2 linked regions of the Homo sapiens genome follow. The protein of the gene in region 1 purifies or fractionates together with the protein of each later gene. This does not show direct contact. Each region holds a gene or a part of one and is shown in the gene's direction. Other genes may lie near its edges.

Evidence for each region. Proteins that work in one complex are often made in the same cells at the same time.
Region 2: the proteins of DAB1 (region 1) and TRIM40 purify together in Homo sapiens (affinity purification with western blotting; one study listed by BioGRID). This does not show direct contact.

What each region holds. Positions count from the first base shown.
Region 1 is NC_000001.11:57,414,061-57,417,560, reverse strand, and holds part of DAB1 (disabled homolog 1), read left to right. Parts: intron 1-3,500. UniProt on the Homo sapiens protein: Signaling adapter of the reelin-mediated signaling pathway, which regulates the migration and differentiation of postmitotic neurons during brain development.
Region 2 is NC_000006.12:30,146,140-30,149,228, forward strand, and holds the end of TRIM40 (E3 ubiquitin ligase TRIM40), read left to right. Parts: intron 1-845; coding exon 846-1,070; intron 1,071-1,380; coding exon 1,381-1,403; intron 1,404-1,585; coding exon 1,586-1,673; 3' UTR 1,674-2,589; downstream 2,590-3,089. UniProt on the Homo sapiens protein: E3 ubiquitin-protein ligase that plays a role in the limitation of the innate immune response. Mediates inhibition of the RLR signaling pathway by ubiquitinating RIGI and IFIH1 receptors, leading to their proteasomal degradation.

The sequences.
Region 1 (3,500 bases):
ACTCATGAAGAATTTTAAAAATTCATTTGCCATAGAACCTTTGATTTCAAGTAGCATCTCTCAGTGTCTTATGAAATAGATTGGGAAAAATGTAGAGAATCACTTAAGCCTTTTAAGAGTAGTTTTCATTCTATCATGAAAATAATATGTGTGTGATTTGAAATGTAGGACAGAATATTTAACCCATTTATGCCTAGTGTTCCTTTATTGGAATGCTAAGCTTGTGGGCGTTATTTATATCCTACTGCTCAAGGTCATCACCAAAGTCTCATTTTTCACAAAAAACAATTTGCAACCTCTGGCATAAATGGGTTAAGACACACAAAAAGTATAAATAACAATATAATAAAAAGTTTTGTACCTACCACTCAGCTAATGAAATAAAGCCAGTTAAATACAGTTGAAACCTCCTGGTAACCTTTCTCTGATCATACGTCCCCTTCTCTTGGCAGACATAGTCACTATCCTAAATTTGATAATTCTTTTGAATATATTTTTCCAGAACAAACCTAAACAATTCCACTGAATTCTCTTCACTTTCTAGCTCATTACTGTATATATAATAAAAAGAAATGGTATTTTGTCCAATAATTTTCCTGAAATAAAGGACATTTATAAACTGTCTAGCTAGTCACTACATAGGTAATAAGAAAGAAATAGTATTTTGCCTAATAATTATACTGGAATAAAGGACATTTATGAACTACTTAGGGAAAGGAAATATAGCTGTCCCTTTTAACTCCGGTGTCTGGAATGTAGTAGATGCTCAATAAGTTTCTGCTTAATTGAATTGAATTAAATGTGTTCAGTCTGCTGTGGTTCATTAAGTTAATTTGGGTAAAAAGATTAGGGTAAATTGTTTTCCATAGACAATATTGAAATTCTTTGTGATCAGTGAACTTGAAAATCATTTTTTATTGTGATTCTTTATTTTGTAATCTAGATTTGGGAGTGAATTATAATAATTATCTGTTGAAAGTCATTTCTATGTTTTATTGACATCTCTTAAAATCATTAACAATAACTACTTATCCAAATCTGTCCTATTAAAACAGTCGATTCACTAGAGCTATCTACTTCCATTATAGGAAAAATTATAAATAAAACTGCTTTCATCCAAAGAGGAAATTTTAAAATTGTAATGCTATGTAATTACTCAGTACCCTGACATGAAATGCATTGAAAGTTTATGAGGTTCCATTCCTTGGGGTCCCCAAGAAATAACTTCCCATCAGTAACAGAGTGTTGTTATTAGATACTATCATGCCAACAGAAGCATCTCTTTTGATATATGCAAGGGACATCTTGAAAAAATTTACATCACCTTAAACATAAGTCATATGTGGGTGACATTTTCTTCTCTTATTGTCTCAGACTATATTCATATATTATGGTATATATGTCAACATGTAGAGTGAATGGCAGAATATTGGTGAAGAATGCATGGTAGAATGAATGAGAGGAGAAAGGAAATGGAAGACTCACAGGCTCACCGGAGGAAGCTTTTGGTACAAAATCATGGCTGTGTGGGAGACAGTAGATTACCTTCTCTCATGGGGTTAGAAGTTGATCTACCCTAGGGTTTTCTATCCTTGCTTTCACTGATATATATTTCTCCTGGTAGTTTTTGTAGTAGCAGTTAAATCCCAGCAGTTAGCAGAACAAGAATGAACTTTGTGGTGTGAATGATCATAAACATAGAAAAACGCTGCACAGAGGGTAAGGAAGAGATGCTGTACAATCCTAGTCCCTGGTGATGGTGTAGCAGTACCTATAATGATGGCATGTGGTGGTGCTTGTCTTGAATTGCAGGCCATGTTATTCTGAGCAGTATTATATGTCTACTCACGAAAGTTCTAGGTATAAGCCACATCCATTCAAATATACTCAGGTTAAACCAGTAGTGCTAGTAATCTAATTGTGGACAAAGTCAAAGATGGGCCAACCATATGCTGAATCTGAGCTATGGCATGTGTTGTCAGAATATAGTTCCAATAAATGCAAAAAGGTTATTTATGCCTTTGGGAAGCTGAATAGATTTATAGACCACATAGAAGTTGGATTTTTGCCAACCTTCTGCTATCTAACTTCTTAATTTTAACGTAGTTGAATTTATCAATCTTTTATGGTTAGCACTTTTTATGTCTTGTTTCAGAAAGCCTTTTTTTTCCCACTCTGATGTCATGAAGATATTCTCCTTTGTTGTCTTCTAAAAGCTTTATTGTTTTGTTTGCCTTTCAAATTTAGGTTCTCTAATCCATGTGGAGTGTGTGCATATATGTGTGTGTGTGTGTGTGTGTGTGTGTGTGTGTGTTGTGTGAGGTAGGCATTTATTCTAATTTTCTTTCATATGGAAAAATGATTTTCCTGGAACTTAGAGTCAATTTCTAAGCATATGTTTTAGCCACTCTTTTGCCCTAACCAAACTTTATTATAGCTTTTTAATGAATCTTGGTATTGGCCAGGACACATCCCTAAAAGTGTCCTTCTGCAAAAGTGTCTCAAGAGTGTCTTGGCTTTTCTTGGGCTGTTTTCTTCCGTATACATTTTATAATCATCTTTCAAGGTTTCACAAGAATACTGTTGAGATTTGATTTGAGTTTTATCAAACTTATAGACTGATTAAAAGATAATGCCATCATTAGGACATTGAGCCTGAGTCTTTCTATCTGTAAATGTAGTAACTCTTTCCATTTATTTAGTTCTTATTTAATGTCTTTCAATACAGTTTATAATTTTCTTCAAAGGGCATGCACTCTTTTTAGATTGAGTTTTAGGTGGTTTATATTTTTGTAATTGCCATTGTAAATGTTATCTTTAAAATTATATTTTCTAGCTATATATTAATTTTCATCATATGCTACCTGTATTTCTTATTCTAAATGGCAAATAGTCAGGAGAGGAGGAAAATCATGGGTGTTTTTGAATGCTTACTATTAAATAAATTCAGGCATCCATGGGAGATACGGCTGGTTCCATTCCAGGCCACTGCAATAAAGAGAATATTGCAATCAAGTGAGTCACACAAATTTGTTGGTTTTCCAGTGTATATAAAAGTTATGTTTACACTATACTGTAGTCTGTTAAGGGTGCAATAGCATTATGTAAAAAAATCAATGTACATACCTTAATTGAAAATACTTTATTGCTCACATATGCTAATGATCAGCTGAGCCTTCAGCAAGTCATAATCTTTTTGCTGGTGGAGGGTTTTACCTCAATGTTGGTGGCTACTGACTGATTAAGGTGGTGGTTACTGAAGATTGAAGTAGCTGGGTCAGTTTCTTAAAATAAGACAATAATGAAGTTTGTCACATTGATTGACTCTTCCTTTCATGAAAGATTTCTCTATAGAATGCAATGCTGTTTGACAGTATTTTACCCACAGCAGAACTTTTTTCAAAATTGGAGTCAGTCCTCTCAAACCCTGACACTGCTTTATCAATAAGTTTATGTAAATCCTTTGCTGTCATTTCAACAATCTTCACAGCATCTTCACT
Region 2 (3,089 bases), on another chromosome or scaffold:
CCTTACTTAACTATTCTGGACATCTGTCTGTCCCTGGAACAGCCTGATGTGGGCAGATGGTCGTGGAGGCTGAAAACCCGGGTGTTGGCCTTGGCGTCAAAGTTTGCTGGTTGAGTGACCTACGCAAGTTAAGCCCTCTGATCTTTATGTGACTTACATGTTAAATGAGAACCAGTCCTGCTCTGCCTGGATCACAGTAGGGATCAAAGGAGACCAGTGTCTCGTCAACTGAAAATTACTACACAAGCCATAGGCCTCTGTTTCTTTTTATTTTATTTTATTTTTTTTTTGAGATGGAGCCTTGCTCTGTCGCCCAGGCTGGAGTGCAGTGGCACGAACTCCGCTCACTGCAAGCTCCGCCTCCCGGGTTCACGCCATTCTCCTGCCTCAGCCTCCCGAGTACTGGGACTACAGGCACTTGCCACCACGCCCAGCTAATTTTTTCTATATTTTAGTAGAGATGGGGTTTCACCATGTTAGCCAGGATGGTCTCGATCTCCTGACCTCGTGATCCGCCCGCCTTGGCCTCCCAAAGTGCTGGGATTACAGGTGTGAGCCACCGTGCCCGGCCGCCATAGGCCTCCATTTCTGTCTCTGACAGTCTACCTTTCTATTCCTCTTGGTCACATGGCATCTGTAGATATTCAGAGAGTGAGGTGGAAAGGTGAGGTGTCCCTGCCTTTATGAGAATCAAAGCTGCTTCTGCTATACCTGTGACACACAGAGGCAACACCATGAGGGCAAGAGGACTGAGGAATCAGCATTCCTGCTCAGACATTCAGAGACTGTGAAGGGCCAGGAGGGAGCCACCTGACACTGAGTCTTAGGGAGCCCCTTTCCTGTAGTTTCAGGTAGACCACGGGAACCACAGGCTGGAGGCTGGGCCGGAGAGCCAGCACCAAACCAGGGAACAGCTGGGTGCCCTCCCTCAGCAGTGGCTGGGCCAGCTGGAGCACATGCCAGCAGAAGCGGCCAGAATCCTTGACATCTCCAGGGCAGTAACACAGCTCAGAAGCCTGGTCATTGATCTGGAAAGGACGGCCAAGGAATTAGACACCAACACACTGAAGGTGCATACCCTGAGGCCTTCCCCAAGGGCTGGGATTCTCCCCGATAGGAGGCAGCCCATCTGCATCACCCTTCTGGGAGGTGTAAGAGGGAGGGGCCTGTGTGATATGTGGTGACTTGTGGTAGATGTGGCTTGTTCCAGGCTACAGAGTGCTGCTGCAGCAGAATGGGCACAGAAGAGGGGTGTTGCTATGTTCCCCCAGTTCTCAAGGTGGCACCCCAGAGTGGCCTCCAAGAGTGAATTGGGAAAGGAATTTGGAGGTGATAGGAACCTGAGAACCAATTATGATTCTCACTTTTTCTCTCTCCTAGAATGCTGGTGACTTACTGAACAGGTACGAGCTGTCCCTTCTTCTTTCCCACATGTGCATATAAACCCACACAACACAGACATGCACAGAGGTCAAGGAGACCCACTGCTCCGTTAGCTTTTGTATCTTGATGCTACATGGCCAATGGAAGAGCCAATGGAATATATGAATACATATTAATCTATGAAAGATTTCTTTGTTTCTAGGAGTGCTCCACAGAAATTAGAGGTTATTTATCCCCAGTTGGAGAAAGGAGTCAGTGAATTGCTTCTTCAGCCCCCTCAGAAGCTCTGACCTGTTCATCCCTGGGACACCTCACTTCAGGCTCACCTCAGCCTCCTCTCTCTCCTTCCTCCAACCTGTCCAGGCCCCCACTGGGTCTACCCAGTGCATCTTCGGGCCTGCCAGCTCCTGAACATGTCACCATTTCTTCATGTCCACAGTCATCACCTGATGCCTGACCCTCTGACTCTTGGACGATAGCCAGCCTCCTTCCAGGACAGGCTCATGCTTGGGGCTGCCACTGTGGAGGTCGGGGCCCATGGTCTCCAGGAGCATTTGTGAAATCTCCATTTTGCCTGTAAACTGATGGTAGTGCCCATCTCTCACAATCTCATTCAAATAGGATCCTCCAGGCCTCTGAATGGCCCGAGCTCATCAGCAGTGACACCACCTCACATGTGGAGCCCAGCTGAGTTCCTGCAGTACTTGTTGTCTGTACCACTCACCTGGCACTTATTTATTATTGTTGTGGAAGACAGACTCAAAGACAGCCTCCCTTCATGATCCTCACCTCTTGGAATTCATGCCCTTGTTTGGTCCCCTCCCCTTGAGTGTAAGTGGGATCTGTGACTTGCTTCTAATGAATGGAATAAGGCAAAGGTGATAGGGTGTCACTCTGGCAACTGTGTTGCATTGTATAGAACTCCTCCTTGCTGGCCCACCCTTTTAGAGCCCCTCCTAGGAGCCAAGAGCAGCTTCCAGCCAACAACAAGCAGAGGCCCTCAGTCTTGTGGCTGCAAGAACCTGAATTCTGCCAACAACCCGAGTGAGCTTGGAAGCAGATTCTTCCCCAACTGAGCCGGATAAGAACCTAGTCCAGCCAACACCTTGATTATAGTCTTGTGAGTACCTAAGCTGAGGACCCAGTGAAGCTGTGCCAAAATTTCCCACCCACAGAAACAGTGTGACAATAAATGTGTGTGTGTTTTTTTGTTTTCTGTTTTCGTTTTTGAGATGGAGTCTCACTCTGTTGCCCAGGCTGGAATGCGGTGGTGTGATGTCGGCTCACTGTAACCTCTGTCTCCTAGGTTCAAGCAATTCTCCTGCCTCAGCCTCCCTAATAGCTAGGGATTATAGGCGCCCGCCACCACACCCGGCTAATTTTTTGTGTTTTTAGTAGAGACAGGGTTTAACCATGTTGGCCAGGCTGGCCTTGAACTTCTGACCTCAGGTGATCAGCCCACCTTGGCCTCCCAAAATGCTGGGATTACAGGTGTGAGCCACCGCGCCTGGCCATGTGTTGTTATAAGGCAGTAAATTTGTGGTAATTTTTGTGGAGTAATGGATAATGAATACAATTGTATATTAGTCATTTTTGTATAAGCCTCACTTCTTTGGGTGAGCAGGGATCATATTCTGTCTGTGTCCTCATGTCTAGAACAGTGTCTGGCTCATAGCTGGTGTCCAGTAAAATTTTAAATGTATGTA